Regions from separate parts of the Homo sapiens genome. Here all the other regions are linked to region 2. The links come from fine-mapping of genetic effects on gene expression. A gene starts in region 2. Each other region holds a variant in brackets. All regions are shown on one strand. Distances are from middle to middle.

Region 1 (5,000 bases), 95 kb after region 2:
CAGTAACAGAAAACCAAATACCACATGTTCTCACTTGTAAGTGGGAGCTGAATGATGAGAACACACAGACACATAGAGGGGAACAATGCACACTGGGACCTGTTGGAGGGTGGAGGGTGGGAGAAAGGAGAGCATCCAGAAAACAACTAATGGATACTAGACTTAATATGTGGGTGATGAAATAATCTGTACAACAAACCCCCATGACACAAATTTATGTGTATAACAAACCTGCGCATGTACCCCTGAACTTAAAAGTTAAAAAAAATTAACTGGGCACGGTGGCACATGCCTGTAGTCCTGACTACTCGGGAGGCTAAAATGGGAGAATCACGTGAGCCCAAGAGTTTGAGGCTGCAGTGAGCTCTGATCACACCACTGTACTCCAGCCAGGGTGACAGAGAAGAGACACTGTCTCAGGAAGAAAAAAAAAAAAGAGAGAGAAAGATGAAGTGTTGCCACATGATACAGTAACTCTGCTGTTACACTGATTCTAGACCTGAGCTTCCCTACTGTTTTGGGGGAACATTATAGGTGTGTCTGGGTACTGTTCTCCTTAGCTCTTCAGGTAGCTGGAGAGGGCCTGGGGCAGTCTGAGCCTGCAATATGAGCAGGCCCTTCCATTTATCTCTGTGTACCATGCATGCATTATAATTTAATGTGTGCAGTGAGGTAGAAAACCTTGGGAACTCTGCATTAAGCAGTGGGCTGCATTTGTTTAACAATTATAATTAGGACTGAAAATGATCTGTTTTAGAAAACTCTATTGGTAGTATAGAAGGGAGAAACATACTAGAAGACCCACTTGAAAGCTATACTAAGAGTTTAGGTAAGAAAAGATGAAGATTTTGAACGATGACACTCTTGAAAATAAATAGGACAATGTGGAGATAAAGATGGCTTATTTAGAGATGCGGAATTGGATTTAGAACATGTCAAATAGAATTGATTAATAAGAAACTGGAAATGTTGAACTCAGAAAAGGAGGTGCCGGAATCCTGCTCAGTCACACAAGTATTTATGGAGTACTTACTAGGTGCCAGCTGCAACCCTAATAGTACCTGGGAACTCTTTGAGAGAGTTAGAAGTCCTGGGATGTGACCTGGGTGAGTACATTCTTTTTAGGACTGGGAGTAGAACAGTAGCCAGCTTGGCATCATTGTCACCCTTTCTGAATTCTCTTCTGTATCATAAAGGAAAAATTGGAACTATGTTTTTTCAGAATCAGAGACTGACAATGAAAAGCACTCAGAAAAATTTGCAAGTAGAAGAGGAAAAACTATTATCTTTGAAAGACAGTGTAGCATTCAAATGGGTGGAGATCAGACTAGAAGCTTCCAGAGCTTCTTGAGAATTACCATCTCCATGCTGCAGACTGAGACTATCCGATGGCTAGCCTAACTTTTACTCACTCAGCTTTCCAAGGGTTGAATCAGCCTCTAATTCTATATGTTAGAATACACAAAGTGACTTCCTTTTTTCGACTGTAATCATGATTATTTGATATTTTCCTACCATCCTGTACTTTCATCACACTTTAATAATTTGTGTGATTTTATTGTATATTTTTCCTGTTAAACTGTAAGCTGCACGGGATGTGTAATGTCTATTCAGCAGACTGTCCCTAACACCTAACAGGGTCTCTAATCACTTCCTAGATTTGTTGAGTATTGAATGCTAAAGTAGAAAAACAGAAGTAGAAAAGAAGGTATGTAAGGACATTATGATCAACAAATTCAAATGTTCATGAAGTGGTTAAGCAGAAAATGGGCTAGGAATAGCTTTTGAATTTAGTGATTTGGAAGACCGTGGAATTTTATTTAAAAGCGCTGTCAGAAGAGTGGTTGGGGTTGGGATTATAATTACAGGACTTCAGCATAGTCAGTAGTGAAAAATCAGAGCAATTTGTTCAGACTGTACAAATGAATTGGGGGCACAAAAGTAGATTAGCTAGAGCACTCAGGTAAAGACAACATCTTTCTGGAGAAGTGGTCAAATTATAAAGCAAAATAACAACAGCTGATGGAGATGACTGAATGGACAATGCTGGAGGAGATATTAATTGAAACAGCAAATTCTTTCAGCCCACAAATTGTAATGCACTGTAAACACCTTTAGACATTGCTTCCCAAACTGTCATCCTAGAACCAGAGTTAGCTGACAGCTTTCACTGTTTCGTGAAAATATTAGAGATATAAGGGCAATATTGTCAGTTTTCATTTAGGCTAAATGTATTAAGTTTAGATTATGTACTTCCTTCATTTGCTGTTACATTGACTTGCTTTTTTTAATTAAACTATTTGGTAGTGGTTGTTGATGTTGCTGTCCTAAATGCCCCTTTTTGAAAAATAAAAATCCGATAACCTTATTTCAGTTCACCTCATCAATTTTACTTTTTAATCTGCTTCACGAAATGTAAAAGTCCGAGAACACGCTGCTTTTATGTATTTAGAAGGAACAAAAAAGACAAACTGTCTGAATTTTTTGACAGTTTTTGAAATCTGAAATAAGTAGAGTTTATAAATGAAAACCAACATAACATTTCTAGCAAATAATGGGAAGAAAACAATTTTATTTTAGATGAAGATCGACTTTCTAGAAGAAAAAGCATTGTGGACACCGTATCCATTCAGGTGGATATTTTATCCAACAATGTT[C/T]CTTCTGATGATGTGGTAAGTTACTGAAAGTTTATGGTAGAGTACTGTCTTGGTAGACATCATTTAAAAGAATTTTTTGCCTTCCACACTTTCGAACAGGAGGAAATACAACTCTAAATTATCCTCAAATCAACTAAATTATTAGTAGAAATTAATCTGATTTAGCTTTGAATTTATTTATAATTTATTTTACTGAACTCATTTCAGCTGTCTGTAAAGATATATAAACCTAACATTATATGTTATGATGTCAGATTTCACATTATAATTTAGTGTAATAAAAGGAACTGTAAAGTATAAGATTTTTTTGCTAAGAAACTTTATACAAAGCCTGTCATTAAATTAGTGGGCCCTCTAGGTCCTACTTATTTTTAAAAATTTAGGAAATGCAAATTACAGAAATAAATAGAACTATACATCCTCATGTGAAGCCAAATGCTGACTACCTTTGAAAAGTTTTAAAACTGCATCTATAAGGGAAAATGTTTTAATTATTTTGGATAGTAAGGATGTTGTTTAAGCTGTGTCAGTGAACTATGTACTCTGTAAGGACTGTGGCTTATTTAAAACATCATAGATTTCATGCTCTCCTCCCGTTTCAAAAAAGCACAAGAGTGTACCCTCCTGACTTATAGGGGAAAAAGCAGCCAGTATTCTCTAGGACTTATTCTACACAAATCACCAGAGAATTTTTTCATAGTCAAGTAAAAATGCCAAAATGCCAGCATGTCAAGTCAACCTCCACCTTGTGGTTTATCCATTGTTTGCCTTCCTAAGTATTTTATTATTTCTCATTGGTACAATATGCATAATTAAAAGAATATCCATATAGGGAAAGGGAAAGGAAGTTAGCTGAATTATGCTTTCTCAAGCCTCCCTCCTACCCCCTTACAATTCCTATTGATTTATTTGTCTTCAGGTACTAAACCTATTTGGTGGCCAGAGTACAGCCAACTGACTTATGTTTTCTATGCCATTCAACTTCCCATTACATAGAAGTTATGTTTTATTAAGAACTTATCAGCACGGCATCAAGAGTAGTTGAAGAAGCACTTAGTGTTCATTTTGAAACTCAACGCATTAAGTCTAAAGTTTCTTACCAGTTTAAGGCTTAATAACAACTTTTCCCAAATTCACCTCTTTCTTCAGAGCTATTTAATTTATACACTCCTTACCAGTAAGAAGAGTATCTTGCTAGTTCTGTCTTTTAATGATTATGAATTTGCCACTATTACCTTTCTAGGGAAGAAATTCATCCAGAGTCTTAGATTATAAACTTAATTTTGTTAAGGGGACACTATGTGTTATTGACTGGTATTTTCACCTTTCTCCTTTTGTTAACTATTCTTACTTCTTTCAAAAATATATAGAGAACACTTGAAACTGTTGGAAAGAGTCAGTCTATTTTGATAAAATCAACTGAAAAAACATTTGCATAAAGACTCAATGTAGGGGAAAGATTCTTGACACAAATCTTACATTAAAAGTCTGTTAATATTTTTATTAACTTTTACAAGATCCTGTTGTTTTTCATTTACTATAAGTCCTAAGTCAAATATGCCTCACACCAAGCATCTGAAAAGTTAAGTACAGTTTAGTGTCACATTTGCTTGAGCACATTTGAGTTTCAGATTCATTTACCATTGTGGAATCTGCTTTTGGATATTAGAGATGTTTGTTCAAATACCAGAAGACAGAATAATACTATCTTCTAGGCTAAAACTAATTAATTACTTTCATATAATGGACAGGAGAAATTCACATCAGATAGATATTTTACCAGTTAATGGTGCAGCAGAATATCAAACTATTTTCTTAAAATGAATCAGATAAGAACATTGCTCATAAAAAATAACTTTTTTGTTTGATCAAAATTATTTATAGTTTTATATGTATAATCCTAGTTTATCCTGAGATGTATTTGCTTTTGCTTTTTAAACTTATAATTTAAAAAAAAAGAGAGAGAGTCAGAAGGTTGTTTAGATGGAGACCATAACAAACTTCTGTTTCCCTAAACTCAAATTGTTACTCTAGTCTATTGAAATACCTGATCCACTTGAGATCTGCCAGTTCTGACATTTGCAATTCCAACCTTGGCCTACTGAGAATCATTTGGTGAACTTTTTCTAAAAGTTGCCATATATAAAAAGATGTATATTATTATTTCTTCTAAATAATGCATTATTTCTTCTAAAAATGTGCTGATGCCATAAAATGTATTATTGATATTTTTATCATAAAGCAGTTGATTTTATACCTTTTACATATCTCAAAGCAAGAGGGAGATTTGAGAGACTCAAGGTAAAAGGTATTTTTAGAGAGTATAAATTGGTGGTTGACTTT
Region 2 (10,327 bases):
TAAAAGCTTGATAAATTATACCACCCATGATTACTTGTATACGCTATTGATTATTAGCAACAGTTATAGTGAAAACTAGTAATAGTGATTAGGGGATACATAACTAACCACTCCCAAACTTAGTGGCTTAAAGTAACAGCTATTTCTTCAGCTCGTGCTCCTGTGTGTTGACAATTTGGGCTGGTCTCAGCTGGGTGGTGCTTATGTGGCTTTTGGCTAGGCTGACTTTTGAATTCTTGTTTAGCTGGGTGACCAGCAGGGGCTGACTGATATATGGTGGCCTCATCTGGGATGATTAGGAGGATTGGCGCCTCTCTCTTCAAATAGAAAGTTTGGGCTTCTTCACCCTTTTTAAGTCTCTGCTCACATAATGTTTGTCACTGCCTCTTTGGTCAAAGCAAGTTACAAGGACAATGCAGACTCAGAGATGAGGAAAAAATTATCTCTTCGGGGGAGGTATCCCCAAATCAACTGCAAGAGTGTAGATATAGCCAGAGGTAAAAAAAATCTAAGCGATTTTTCTAATCTACCACAAAGATCTCCTTTCAATACTTCAACTGACCTCTCTGTGATGCTTGCCCTTTATGTTTTTCCCCTTCCTCCCTCCCTCTCTTCCTCCAATTCCCACACTTCCTCAAATATTTATTAAATAAAATATTTCATGTGCAGGAGATACAGCAATAAATAAGATTTGATACCAATTGTCATAAAAGTCTTGTAAAAAACTCACTGCCTAGCATGAGACCATATTTAGAAGATTTTTTTCTCTCCTTTCAGCAGCTCCCCTACACTCTGTGTTAAATGCTAAAGCTAGCTAACATTTTAGTAAATAACAATGAGAGTTAATGCTTTCCTCTAATTGTTTAAAATGATAGTGTTTCTAAGGAAGGGTTTCCAGCTGTTTTGTCTGATTTAATCAAGAACTCTTAACCTGATTATCTCAAGATTTTGCTCCACCCATTTGCAATTCTCTTTATAAAGCAGAGATGACTGAGACATTTGGCTCATGACATGATCGGGAGTGTCTGCCTTGCACAGTGTCCTAGTTGGCACCGAAAAGTTTGGGCAATGACCTTCTGGATTAGAGGCTGTTAAAGGGTAAGCTGGCTGGGTGTGGTGGCTCATGCCTGTAATCCTAGTACTTTGGGAGGCCGAGGCGGGCAGATCACCTGAGGTCAGGAGTTCGAAACCAGACTGACCAACATGCTGAAACCCGGTCTCTACTAAAAATACAAGATTAGCTGGGTGTGGTGGCACATGCCTGTAATCCCAGCTAATTGGGAGGCTGAGGCAGGATAATTGCTTAGACCCGGGAGAGGTTGCAGTGAGCCCAGATCATGCCATTGTACTCCAGCCTGGGCAACAAGAGCGAAACTCCATCTCAAAAAAAAAAAAAGAAGAAGAAGAAAATGTAAACTGAGGCATAATAAAATTTTAAAGAGTTTATTTGCACAAATAGCGATGCATGAATCTTCGGAGGGAACACCAGGGGAAGGTTTCTATAGGATGGACATAGAAGTAAAGCAAATAAAATATTTGATTGATTATAATTATACAGTCCCCATACTTGGTTTATTCTGTTAGAAAGTCCCTAGTTATATAAATTTGTTGATAACTTCTGATTGGTTGAGCTTAAGTTCTGTTTTTTCTTGAATTTCAGCATTTACAAGAAATAGCTCAAGTTAAGTTTTACTTACATTTGCAAATCAAGCAAGGCTTAGTTCACTCACAAGGCCTAACTGGTTTTATCTGCTCAGGGGTTCTTTAGACCTGGTCTGCATCTTAATTTACTTTAGCAAGACTTATCTTTTTTGTATGTTTTCATAAGTGTTTCCAATTCCTTTGTGGGGAAAGCAGAATCCAAACTCAGGTTTTCTGTGTCTAAAGTCTGTGTTTTTTATGCCTCATAAGAACTGGAAAGCCTTAAGTTATGATTAATCAATGGTAAAATGAAATGGAATGAAATGAAAAAAAGGGCATATTATTGATATGTATTGTGAGAAAAAAACTAAGCAATGAGAGCATCAGATTGCATCATTATGACTTTTTTGGAATAAGCTTTTAGGAGGAGTGAATCTATAGCCTTATTAATTATTTCCTATAAACTGTAAATTTGCTGGCAATTACCTTTGAAGCACTAAAATGCATGCTAATTAAAAGTGAATTCTCTCAGTGCAGGATTTAGAAATTGGAACAAATACTACACTAAACTGGAAACAGAGCTATTTTGGACAATTTGAGCTAAAAGCCAATGCTCTAATAGGATATCAACAACGACCTTTCTAATATTATTTTGACCTCTTATTTTCTGAGAAGGAATAAAAGAAGGGACAAAGAACTTCTATTTTTAATGGCATGTATTCTGAAAATGTGCCAGAAAACATAAAAAAGAAAGTACTCTTCTATTTAAGTGCTAGTGAATGTCTTTCTTGATTTGAACTCAACATTGGCTTTTGAAGAGTTTAAACAAAATAAACAGGTACTATTAGTAATGATTAATATATAGGTAATGAGGTAACAAATGTCCCAGTCCTGACCAGCCTATATGTATAAATAAGGACAAGTTAATGCCCACATTACCTTGGTTCTTTATCCCACCTGCACATGCAGGCCTCAGCAGCCCTCCTTAGGATCCACCACAGTTACTGGGAGTCCCCAATATCTGCTATGTACCGCAAGAAGCACTAGGGCCCTTCAGAGACAGGATGGAGGTATGCAAATTAGCTCTGGAACTTGAAAGAAACACCTTAAAGCCAACTTAGAAGTCTTGGAAGGTCTTTTTGTACTTAGTGATATTTGAAAATAATTTGTTTCTTTTTTAAAAAAATCAGTTGCAAAGACTGCAGCAATCACATTCCTTTTTCATTGTACACTGTCGTCTTTCTGTTCAAAGCCCTTTTTTTGCTAATTTTATTTCCCTATTCTCACTCCCTTTCCCTTCACCTCCTTATATATCATTGTTGAGATCCATGTTTTCTACGTGCATGTTTTTTAAAAAATGACATAAATAGTACTGTGCTATAAATATTGATGCTTCTTAATTCTGCATTTTTTTTTTTTTCGAGACGGAGTTTTACTCTTGTTGCCCAGGCTGGAGTGCAGTGGCACGGTCTTGGCTCACTGCAACTTCTGCCTCCTGGGTTCAAGCGATTCTCCTGCCTCAGCCTCCCAAGTAGCCGGGATTACAGGTATCCACCACCATGTCTGGCTAATTTTTGTTATTTTAGTAGAGACGGAGTTTCACCATGTTGGCCAGGCTGGTTTCGAACTCCTGAGCTCCAGTGATCCACCCGCCTTGGCTTCCCAAAGTGCTGGGATTACAGGCGTGAGCCACTGAGCCTGGCCAATTCTGCATTTTTAAGATCAAGCCATGTTGCTGATGTGCATCCACAGTACGTATGAATCCACCATGTTCTGCAAGTGACAAACGCCTAGGTGGCCTCCAACTCCGCATTGCCATGAACAACACGTCAATTAACCTTTTTATCCATCTTCCTTGTGGACCCTGGTGAGAAATTTTCCAGGATATATTCCCAGAAGGATGATCTCCAGGTCATAGGGCATACTTAATTACACCAAACACTCACAAGGACTTTGGAAGTTAGCTAGAGCAGGGGACAGAAAAGCCCATTCCAGCAGGGCAAAGAGCATGGGCAAAAGAATGGAAGAGTGCTACAGCAGAGTGGTTTCTGAGAACTGTGCACTCATTAGGACCAGGGGAAGCAAAGCGTAAGTTGCAATGTAGGGGAACTGAAGAGCTCTCAATGTCAGGCCTTGAAAGGCTTCCTGTGCTAAGCTAAGGGCTTTGAACTGTAGACTGAACACTCTACTGAGCCATAGACAAGTGTTAGCAGGTGAGAGGTCATAGTCCATTTCCATTCCTATAAAGGAATACCTGAGGCTGGGTAATTTATAAAGAAAAGAACTTTATTTGGCCCACAGTTCTGCAGACTGTATAAGAAGCATGGTGCCAGTGTCTGCTTCTGGTGAGGGTTTCAGGGAGTTTCTACTCATGGTGGAAGGGGAAGGGAGGAGGCATCACATGGCATGAGAGAGGGAAAGGAGGTGCCAGACAATTTTTAGCAATCAGATACTGCAGGAACCAACAGAGAACTTATTCATTACCTTAAGGAAGGCACCAAATTGTTCATAAGGGATCCACCCCCATCACCCAAACACCTTCCACCTAGGCCCCACCTCCAATGTGGGGGATCAAATTTCAATATGAGATTTGGAGGGAACAAATATCCAAACCATATCAGAGGTATCATTAGATTTGCATGTTAGAAAGGGCACTCTGCCTGCCCTGCACCCTGACAAAAGCATCACCTCAAATACCAAGCTCAAACACTAAAGTGGCTCAAATGCCAAGGCAGTGTGTCTTCTCTTAAAGGGATCTGGTGACTCGTCTCCATGTCTACCACACATAGTGTCCAGGACAAGAGCTGGGCAGTGTGGGCACCAAGAGAGATGGCTAAATCCTCGTTCCTGTCAGCCCAGACTGGGCTCCAAGAGAGGAGCACTGACACAGAGGGGATAGAAAGGGGAAGGGTGTTTGCAAAAGGGGATACACCAAGAGGGGTAAGACCAAGTACCAAAGATGACGGCAGACTCTCTGCTCTCAGAAGTAGGGGGTAGGGGGCCGGGCGTGGTGGCTCACACCTGTCATCCCAGCACTTTGAGAGGCCGAGACAGGCAGATCACTTGAGGCTGGGAGTTTGAGACCAGCCTGGCCAACATGACAAAACCCCGTCTCTACTAAAATTACAAAAATTAGCCAGGCGTGGTGGCATGCACCTGTAGTTCCAGTTACTTGGGAGGCTGAGTTAGGAGAATTGTTTGAACCCAGGAGGTGGAGGCTGCAGTGAGGTGAGATTGCACCACTGCACTCCAGCCTAGGCGACAGAGTGAAACTCTGTCTCAAAAAAAAAAAAAAAAATCAAAAAGGAAGCGGGGGCTGGCTGTGGTGGATACACCGGCAGAACTCGGATCCAGAGGATAGGTTAGGGAAAGAGTATGGTAACATTGCTACCAATGTGCACAAACTAGGGAAAAAAAAAAAACCACGTAGGTACTGTATATATAATCAAAACATTATGACACTATTTTTCCTGACATTCAGCTGTCCTTCCTCAGAATCTTTGGCTGCTGATTTTTATTTCTGGCAACAATACAAAACCAAAAGACCAAGAGGATTAAAAACAGAAAGAAATGAAAAACAAACAAACAAAAAAACAACCAGTATGTGCAGGACAATTTCAGGGCCTTTGGGATCTGCATCTTTTTCAAGGTAATGTAAGCAGAGATGTCTGCCTTTTGGAGTCATGTCTTCCCTTGGCTCCTGGGGCACTGTATCCTGTGGATCTCGTCTCTCTGTGCCTTCACTGCCTCCACATCTTCCCTAAAAGGGCTCTCTTTGACACCCAGCTTCAGCTCCTGTCCCGGGACCAAAGATTTCCAAATCTCCCACCCTGAGGTCCCTCAGCCCACCTTCATCCTGGCTTGCCCAGCTGCCTTCAGATTCATTCACTCGGATGTCTCCCTCTGATACCACCTCAAGCTCAATATGTCAAGGAGAAACTCACACCTTTCTTCACACCCCTTCCCTAAAACAGCATTTCTTCCTGACTGGTCTACTGCTCTCCAGCACCACCACTTTCCTTGTTCCAACCTTGGAGTTACATAACTAACAGATGCCTCTCTATTGCTCCCAAGTCAGCAGCCAACAAATCCAGGGATTCTTTTCCAAAGTAAGATTCAGTTCTTTCTTTTTCCACAGCCACCACCAAGACTGAGCACCTAACACTCTCTCCTGTATTGGGGCCTTCCGATTTGGCTGCCTACCTCCACAGTTTCTCTGCCACACCATTCCCCCTGCAAGGCCCTGCTTCTGATAATTTAATGTTACTGTTATGCTTTTTGTAAAAATCACAGAACAGTTTCTTAAAAGACAAATTCCAAGGTTGAATGTAAAGTTGTTTATCAGTTTTATTTACCTGTTTTTGTTTTCATACTCTTGAATAAAATCCTTTATTTATATATTGAATTAATATACTCTGGCCCCCACCTGTGTGCCAGCCAAGGATACATAAACATGAACAGAATATGGCTTTTGCCATTTTCTGAAAAGCAAATAGGCCCATGGTAAAACACAAGCACTCATGACAGTTTATTTAGGATGCAGTGAGAAAAGTGCTGTAGCAGAGAGGAATCAAGATAATGCCAAAGTCTTAGGGAGAAAACTGGAAGCATGAAAGATTTTATAGGTGATAAAATATGCAACAGGGCATTAAAACATGAATAAGCACTAGGTAGTTTGGTCTTTACTGTTAGCAAGGGACAGTCTCTCTTTTTTTTTTTTTTTTTTTGAGATGGAGTCTTGCTCTGTAGCCCAGGCTAGAGTCCAGTGGCCCGATCTCGGCTCACTGCAAACTCCGTCTCCTGGGTTCAAGCGATTCTCCTTCCTCAGCTTCCCAAGTAGCTGAGTGAGAATATAGGCATGTGCCACCACCCCCGCCTAATTTTTGCATTTTCAGTACAGACAGGGTTTCGCCATGTTGGCCAGGCTGATCTCGAACTCCTGACCTCAGGTGATCTGCCCACCGCCCACCTCGGTCTCCCAAAGTGTTAGGATTACAGGCGTGAGCCACCGTTCCCAGCTGGACAGTCTCTTTTATAGGTACAGTACACACTCTCCTCTCCCCAGCTGCCATGACTCACTCTAAATTACCCTTCATCCTCTCCCCAGCCTCTTTTAGGACTCCCCTAGGCTTTGCTAATTCAAATTCTGCTTTCTTCCAAGTCCACCTCAAGCCAAGACTAATTTCTCCTCAGCGCTTCCTAGCTCTGATCTTCATGTTCTTCATCTTCTCCTCCCAGTACTGCACAATATCATTTCTTAATCAGAAGGTTAGCCCTACTTTTTAGGACAAAGGTTCTCAGTATTATCATTGTATTTAAATCATCTGTATATGTGTTCGTAGATTTGGCTCAGCACCTAGGAATCTGCTTTTCAACAAGTCCCCAGGGGATCCAAGCACAAAAGGATCCTGGACCACTTTGACCCACTTTGAGGAAGGCTGTGTTAAACCTCTGCGGTTGGCTTTTATATCTCCATATGGGCTGTCCGCAGCCCACGGCGCCTAGCATAGTGTAGGTGCGTTGCTCAGCTCTCTGGCTCCCGGTGTCTGCTCAGCTTGGTGACTATTAGATACCTCAATTATTAATGACACCCAGAGTCAAGAAGAGTAGCTCAGCCAAGTGCACAGAGCTGCCCTCTCCAGAGGAGACTAACTCCTGAGGGATAAGGTCGCTCTGAAAGTCACAAGAGCAAAAGGAAATTACATTTTCTGCCCTCTCAAAAAATGAGCAGCCATCACCCCAAATGACCTTAGTGCATCTCAAATAAACCATGCTTTCAGAGTATGCAAAACGCACTGCAAGTTAAACCGATTGCAAAAGAAAAAGCCCACAGGTACTCCGTGCGCTCAAAGCCATCATCCTCACAAACGTAAAGTGATGCACTCCAAATAGAGATCAAGGAAAACGAATGCCACGCAGGTCACCAGGCTTGGAAAATAGAAGGCACCCGAAGTTGTTCTACGTGGCTGTCCCCAGCCACCCATTCCACCCGCTCGACAAGGGATCCTGGGCCGAGCCCGGCCATCCGCGGGGGCGGGGCCGGGACGGCGGCGGCGCGCTGACGTAACGGGCGTGGGTCGTCCGTCGCGCCGCCCGGCGAGGAGTGGGCTGGCGGCGGTAGCTGTCGCCCGCTTGGTTGCGTGACCGCGGGGTCCGCGTCCGCTCCCTCCACCCTTCGCCCTTCGCCCTTCGCCTCGTTCCGGCCTCCGCGGCCCAGCAACGGCCGTCATGGTGCCGTCGGCGCTCCCTGCGCGGCCCCGCTGAGCCTCGGTGCGGCGGCGAGCGCGGTCGAGATCGCCATGCCTACCCGTGAGTGGCCGGCCGAGGGCCGGGGGCGTTGGGAGGCGACTGCCTGCGCGACGCGCTTGGGCCGGGTACTCCTCCCGGGCGGCTGGGGAGGCTGGGCCGCGCTGAGCAGAGCCAGGAAGTGTCTGCGAGCGGCGGAGTTAGTTTCGTTTCGGCTTAGCCTTCCGGAGATGGCGTGAGCCCGTTGCACGGATCGGGAAACTGAGGCCCGAACGTTAAGGGAACTGCGGGGACGCGCTGTTAGGAGGCGGCAGAGCTGGTGGTAACCTGACCCGTGGGATTTCAAAGTTAAAGCCCTTTTCCCACGGCCACACGGCTTCGTGGGACTTTATGGAAATATTGAAAATAACTGCGGTACCATTGTCAGTCCCTTCTCACCTCGGGCCGGACGTCGCTAGTGGACGCGCCGGCCCCGAGTCCCTTCCCGCGGCCGCCAGACAGACCCCCGACAGCCTAACTCGGCGTCCGTATCGCCGTCGGGGCGGCTGAAGTCGGAGCTTTCTGTGGAGCTTGTTAGGCAGAGGCACCTCGACTGTGGCTTTTGGACCACACTTCGGATTCACCCGGGCAGATGATTAAAAATGCCGGTTTCGGGACCCGCCCTATTCCCATGGAATTAGTCTGGAGCTTGGGCCCCGGAGTCTGCATGTCTAATAAGCGTCCCTGGGGTTACCAAGGCACCCCAAAGTTTAAAAGTCACTCGGTGTTGGAGGATTTTTAGACAGACGCGATACTACAAGTACTGCTAATGACCTATTTTAAAATGACCCAGATAATCGCAGTGTGACTTTATAGCCACTGGTCAATGTGGATATGTGCAAACTAGGGAAGCTCCTGATCTTGGGTAGAGAGGAAGCAACTTTGTCATTGATTTGAGAATTCAAGTAGGACTCCTTTGACTAAGTGTTCAATACTATAGAATCTTTACACACTTGTGAATATATTTCCTAGAATTCATAACTACTTCTAGTTGTCCTTGTTTTGTAGCCATCTGGGACGCTGAATTTCCAGGTCAGTCTCCAATGCACGTTTCGTCTAGTGGTGGGAAAAGATGAGTTATTTCTTGATATTATAAAGATTGATATTTTCCTGATATTTAAGGATATTAAATTTAAATTGATATTAAAGATATTTAAATATCTTTTTGAGATTTAAAGATTTTCCTGTGGCAAATCTTTACATAGTCCTGATGTAGAGATTACTTTTAACTCCTCATACATGTGTGGGTACTGTGGATTTTGTTTTCTTCACACACTACTGTGTGTCCTTAACTCACGTTCTTGGACTTCGCATCCAGTAAATATGTCCAGTTTAAATTTCTGTTTTATTCCTTTTGGCTGGAGGAATATCATTTACAATCATCTTCATTGTTATTGCCAGTTTAGTACTTCTAAATTCATGTTCACGTTATTCAGTGAATATCTGAGACTAGCACTATGCTAATCTTTTATTTTCTGAGAAACCAAAGGGGAGGAGGTAAGCACCTATTGAAAGTTGAGGCTTCAAGTAGAATTTATTGGTAACATGCCAGAATTATCCTGTGAAATAAAATTTTTAGTTATGTTCTAGGGTTATCTAGCTTCACAGAGTGGATATAGTAAACTCGTTTCTTTTCAAATGTTGAGTTCATTCTGCAAAATGATTTTAGGATGGGCCATGGTGGAGTTTACATAGTTAAGAATGCAGATTTCACACCCTGACTGGAAGACAAGTGAAATGTTTGTTTTATCTGTCATTGTTAATATTTGTCATGGTACATTTTTTATGACTGAATAAAAATGTGCTGTGGATTGATTGGGGGTACCAGTGTGAGGTGAATAGTGTTCATATTTGCCTTTTCTCTCCTTTGGCAGTCACAGCTGCCGAAATTGCTGGGATAGTGCAGTGGACAACAATATTTCTTTGAAATTCTGTTTGTAGAATATATATCCAACACAGAGATGGCAAAATTGTTATTCTCTGTAGGAATTTAGGAGGAAGTTCACAGCTCTTAGGAGGAAAACTGTGCTCAGATAAGCTAAGTGTTTTTGTTTGATTGGTTGTTTTAATGTTAAATGGTTGAGAGGCTTAGTGATAAGCCCAAGCCAGTTAATCCGTACGAGTTTTAATTAAAATCAAAGGGTTGGAGGTGATCACTGTGGTCTCTCAGACTCTACAATTCCGAGAGCAACCCTTGCTGTAAGTCATAGAATTATTCTACTCTTGCTATTTTGTTGCTTATTTGGAATATTGGTACTCATTGAAACTGTTGTTAATAACTAGAATCCAGTGAAGCATGCAGTAACCCCACTGGTTAAGCAATGATATATCTCATGAATATTAACAGCCACTTCACTAGAATTATTTTGGAGATCCGTAGACTCTTTGAGAAAGCAACCAC
Region 3 (5,000 bases), 100 kb after region 2:
AAAAAAAGACAACCCTTACATTAAATTCTAATAGATAAGACAGATCAAACCAAAACTTTAAAGCATTGTGTACTTAATAATTAATCAGCTTAATAGTCACAATTATACTTTGTCTCTTAAGTTACATTGATATTATTATATATAGATACCTAGAAAATAAACCATTCTTAACATTTTTTTCTTTTTTGCAGGCAAATTTGCTTCATGATAGACTTGCCCAAATATTGGAACTCACCATACGGTAAGGGTTTTGTTATCACAATAGCAATAACACACACACACGAATAGAAACTGACAGACCCCTATGAATTTGTGGTTCATTATGTTTAAGTTATCATGTTAAAGTAATGCTTTTCATTTAGGATTAACATAAGATCATATAGGTGATCCTTTGCTTAATAGTGATTCTGTTTTTTAGGCAGAGTCTGATACCCTTTCTTGACTAGTTGTCCTCTAGCTTTTTAGCTTCTTTTTTAGATTATTCATTCCTTCCTGATGATCTCTTAAGTACATCTGGGTAATTTAAAAAAGACCCATATTCTAATATTATGCTTAATTAGGAAATTGCTCATATTGAATCGTTTTGTCCTGCAGAAACTGCATTTTAATATGTCAGCCTCATGGTTCTTTTCAGGGCAGTAATAAGTCTACTTATGCAGATAGCTCATTTGAATTATTGAACTTTCCTTTAGTTTTTGTACATCATATTCATTTGAGTTCTGTTGTGAATTATTATGCTCTTTGATTATCCTATGTCTATACATTAATAAGAAATGTAGCACCTGAAGGAAGGAGAGGCAAACTCTAGGTTCCATCTAAAGAAGGAACTTCCACATAGTCTTACATTGACTTCAGTGTGGAAACCTGCCTTTGTGAGAGGTGGCCAGTAGAGATGTCTATGCTTCTGGAAATTTTTTCTATATCTGGCATATCTTTCATATTTTTAACTTGATTAATTAAGTCTGTTTTTCTTCAACCCTGTATTATATTAATATTAGAGACAGGTAAATGCTCTAGGCCACTTGCTTTTTTGTTTCAGTCTTTTTTCTGCTTTCATAAGCAAGGCACATTTTTGTCATTATATATCTTACTCTAGACATTTCCCTCCCATTCCTGCTATACTCTCTTAAGTTGAGAATCACTCATTTACAAAATTTAAGAACAGAAAATCAGACTAAAATATTCAATATGTGCTAGACAAGGGGTCCCCAACCCTCAGTCCAGAGACCTGTACTGGCCCATGGCCTATTAGGAACCAGGCTCCACAGCAGGAGGTGAGCAGTGGGCAAGTGAACATTATTGTCTGAGCTCCGCTTCCTGTCAGATCAGCGCGGCATTAGATTCTCATAGGAGCAGGAACCCTATTGTGAACTGCTCATGCAAGGGATCTAGGTTGCATGCGCCTTATGGGAATCTAATGCCTGATGATCTGAGGTGGATCAATTTCATCCTGAAATCATCCCCCCAGTCCCCATCCTTGGAAAAACTGTCTTCCACAAAACTGGTCCCTGGTGCCAAAAAGGTCGGCGACTGTTGTGCTAGACTTAGGATTCAATTAAAATTGCTGGGTGTGGGCATTTACTTCTTTGATGACTAAATGTCAAACATTTAATAGTAAATGTCTACTGTGTACTTGATCTTATGCTACATGGTTTATATCTATTATTTCTGCTAATCCTCACCATAGCCCTGAAAGGTAGGTAGACACTATTTTTTTGATTTTTCAGGTGAAGACACCAAGGCTTAGAGAAAAGTAAAATAATTTGCTGAAGGGCATACAGCTAATGAGTGGCAAAGTCAAAATTCAAATCCATAACTGATGTTCTTAAAAGGAATGTTGCTAGAGATCACCATATCACATTTAGTCAAACTAACATAACTATATGAATTTAATATTTTAGAATAAGTATTATAACTAATTCTGTTTCATTGGTACCACAACTACTACTAATACTTACATTCATTGAACAGTTACTACTAATAATTAACATTTTTAAACACCTATGTTGTTCTAAGCACTGTGCTAAATGTATTATTTTATTTAATATCTGCAACAGACTCTAACAAACAGATAGTGATTATTCTCATTTTACATGTTTGTAAACAGACATACATGGAAGTTAGGTAACTTATACAGGGTCACCTATTTAGGAAGCAGTAGCTCTGGAATAGCTTATGGAGAAACTAAATAGACTTTATAGAAATGTGTCTTCAGAGTTTTCAGGTCCTGTCTGGTACATTTTCTCTTGTTAATTTGCCTCACCCTAACCATCAGACAGTGGAAAGAGTTTGTATCCTCCATAAAAGAAACAGAACAACACAATATTATACTTCGCTCCCACTGTTCTTTCATTTACATTTTAACCATACCTGAGTATGGTTAAAAAAAAAAACAAGAAAGGCAAAGAAGCAGTAAAATACAGTGAGAATAAGCAGCCTCACAGATAACCCAGTTATTGGAATTAGTAGAAAAGGCCCTTAGAACACCACACACCCACACCCCCCACCCAGGCCCCACACACACACGTCAAAGAATTTAAAGGACAAGATACATATAGTTTGGAGAGAAATGTGTGTGACATTGCTTATTCTCACGATCGTCTCCTGTTTCTTTGCATTATAATTGCAAATTTTAATGTTCCTCTCATAAGAGTACTAAAACATAACTAACAAGAAGACAAAAATGCAGAAAGGATATAAGATTTGAACCATTTCAGTCAATTTAAGTGGCCTTTAGAAAACACAATGCTAGGCAAATACAGAATATAGATTCTTTTGAAGTGCACATACAACATTCACAAAATAGACAGATGTGGGACTATA[G/A]CAAGTGTAAGTAAATGTCAGGAAACTGACATGTTAAGACATCATATTGAGTATGTTCTCTTGCCACAAAAAAAAGTATAATGCATTAACACATATCTAGAAAAATTTCAAATATCTGGAAATTAAAAGACACCCATACCTCAAAGAAGAAATGACAGGACGAATTAGAAAACATTTTAAACTGAAAATACCTATCAAAGTTTTGTAAGATGAAACTAAAATCGTGCTCAGGAGCAATTTTATATCTTTAGATGCTTTTGCTTGCAAAGAAGAGAGATCTGAAAGCAGTGAATTAATGACTTTTGGTGAGACATTAGAGAAAGAAGAACAACATAAGCTAAACTAAGTATATCAGAAGTCAATGAAACAGAAAATAGGCAAACAATAGAAAATATTAACAAACCTAAAAGTTTGTTCTTTGAAATGGTTGATAAAATTGGTAAACCTCTGGTCAGTGTTAAGGAAGAAAAAGAGAGAAAACACAGATTACCAATATTACAAATAAAAAAGAATTATAGATAATAAAGGAATGTTATACACAATTTTATGACAATAAATTCAACACTTTAGATGAAATGAGCAAAAATTATTGAAAGTCAAAACTAACTAAAATTGACACAAAAAGTAGTAAAACATCCAAATAACCCTATAACTGTTGAAATAGATTTGCAGTTTAAAAGCATCCTACAAGAAAATGCATTTAACTTCACTGCTTACTTTTATCATACATTTAGGTAAGAAATAATACCAGTTTCATACATATTCAGGAAACAAAGGAGGTAGAAACATTTTCTAACTCATGAGGCCAGTATAACTTCAACACTTAAATGAGACAAGGATATTTTAAGAAAAATGAAATTATAGACAAGTACCCCTCCTGAATATAGTCACAGAAATCTTTATCAAAATGTTAGCAAATGTATAAAACTGATGATATGGCCTAAATAAATGGGGTTACTATGAGGAAAGCAAGATCAGTTTTACATTAGAAAATTGATCAGTCAGCAAAATTCACCACATTAACATAGTAAGAAAGCAAAGTTGCATGATCACACCAGTAGGAAAAAAAGCATTTGAAAAAGCTCAATGTTCATTTAAGACAAAAATTATCAGAAAATTTGGAATAGAAGGGAACTTAATCTGATAAAGAGTAATTATAAAAAAATCTATTGCTGATGTTATGTATAATGGTGAAAGTCTGATGCCTTTCACCTAAAACTGGGTCAAGGATGTCTACTCTCACCATGTCAACATTGTATTGAAAGTCTTAGGTAAGTAAAGTGAAAAAAGGAAAAATATAAAGATGAGAAAGGAAGAAATAAAACTATCTTTTCACAGATGACATGGTTGTGTATGTGGAAAATCGTAAGTAATCAAGAAAAAAAACCCTACTAGAGTTAATACATGAATTAAATGAATTTTAGTAAGGTCACAGGATTCAGGGTATTCAAGGTCAGTATTCAAAATTCAGTTGTATATCTATATATTAACAACAAACAATTGCAAGAGTAAATTTTTAAACATAGCATTAAAAAAATTAGCCATAATTTAACAGTATGTAAGATTTCTGTTATGAATATAAAACATGAATGAGAGAAATTAACACCTAAACAAAGGAGAGATATACCATGTTCATGGACTGAAGGATTAAATATTGTTTATATGCTGTTTCTTTCAAGTTGATCTGTAGCTTCAATAAAATCCCAATCAAAACCCCAACAGACTTTTTTGTAAAAACGTATAAATTGATTTTAAAATTCAGATGAAAGTACAAAGGACCTGGAGTAGCTAAACAGTTTTGAAAAGGAAAAATAAAGTTGAAGAATTTACACTGCCTAATTTCAATACTTGATTTATAAAGCCAGAGTAGTCAAGACATTATTGGTATAAGAGTACACAAAGAGATCAAGATAACAGAATGGAGAGTCCTATCAAAAACTTAAGTGATTTTTGATAAAGGAATCAAAACAATTTAATGAGGAAAAGAAAATATTTTCAACAAATGTCCTGGAACAACTAGATAAGCTAAAAGAAAAATACTAATCTCAATCCCTACCTTCCACCAAACACAAACATTAATTATTAAGTTGGGTAATCAATGTCTATGTAAAAGCTAAAATCAAAATTTCTAAAAGAAAACATAGGAAAGAGTCCTCTCAGTCTTAAAATGAGCAAAA

The links.
Region 1: its variant is fine-mapped to the expression of EFR3A in whole blood (TOPMed, PIP 0.96).
Region 3: its variant is fine-mapped to the expression of EFR3A in whole blood (INTERVAL, PIP above 0.99).

The regions. Positions count from the first base shown.
Region 1 is chr8:131,993,826-131,998,825 of GRCh38, forward strand. It overlaps EFR3A (EFR3 homolog A), which reads left to right. Exons shown (of 23, transcript NM_015137.6): 19 at 2,581-2,672. Among named protein-coding and RNA genes, the nearest start is that of OC90, 63 kb to the right of the region's middle. The variant C/T (reference allele first, on the strand shown) is at 2,658.
Region 2 is chr8:131,896,373-131,906,699 of GRCh38, forward strand. EFR3A (EFR3 homolog A) reads left to right here and starts at 7,721. Exons shown (of 23, transcript NM_015137.6): 1 at 7,721-7,950. The coding sequence starts at 7,941. RefSeq lists a silencer at 7,618-8,097 and an enhancer at 8,668-8,717.
Region 3 is chr8:132,003,045-132,008,044 of GRCh38, forward strand. EFR3A (EFR3 homolog A) reads left to right here. Exons shown (of 23, transcript NM_015137.6): 22 at 192-241. Among named protein-coding and RNA genes, the nearest start is that of OC90, 54 kb to the right of the region's middle. The variant G/A (reference allele first, on the strand shown) is at 2,824.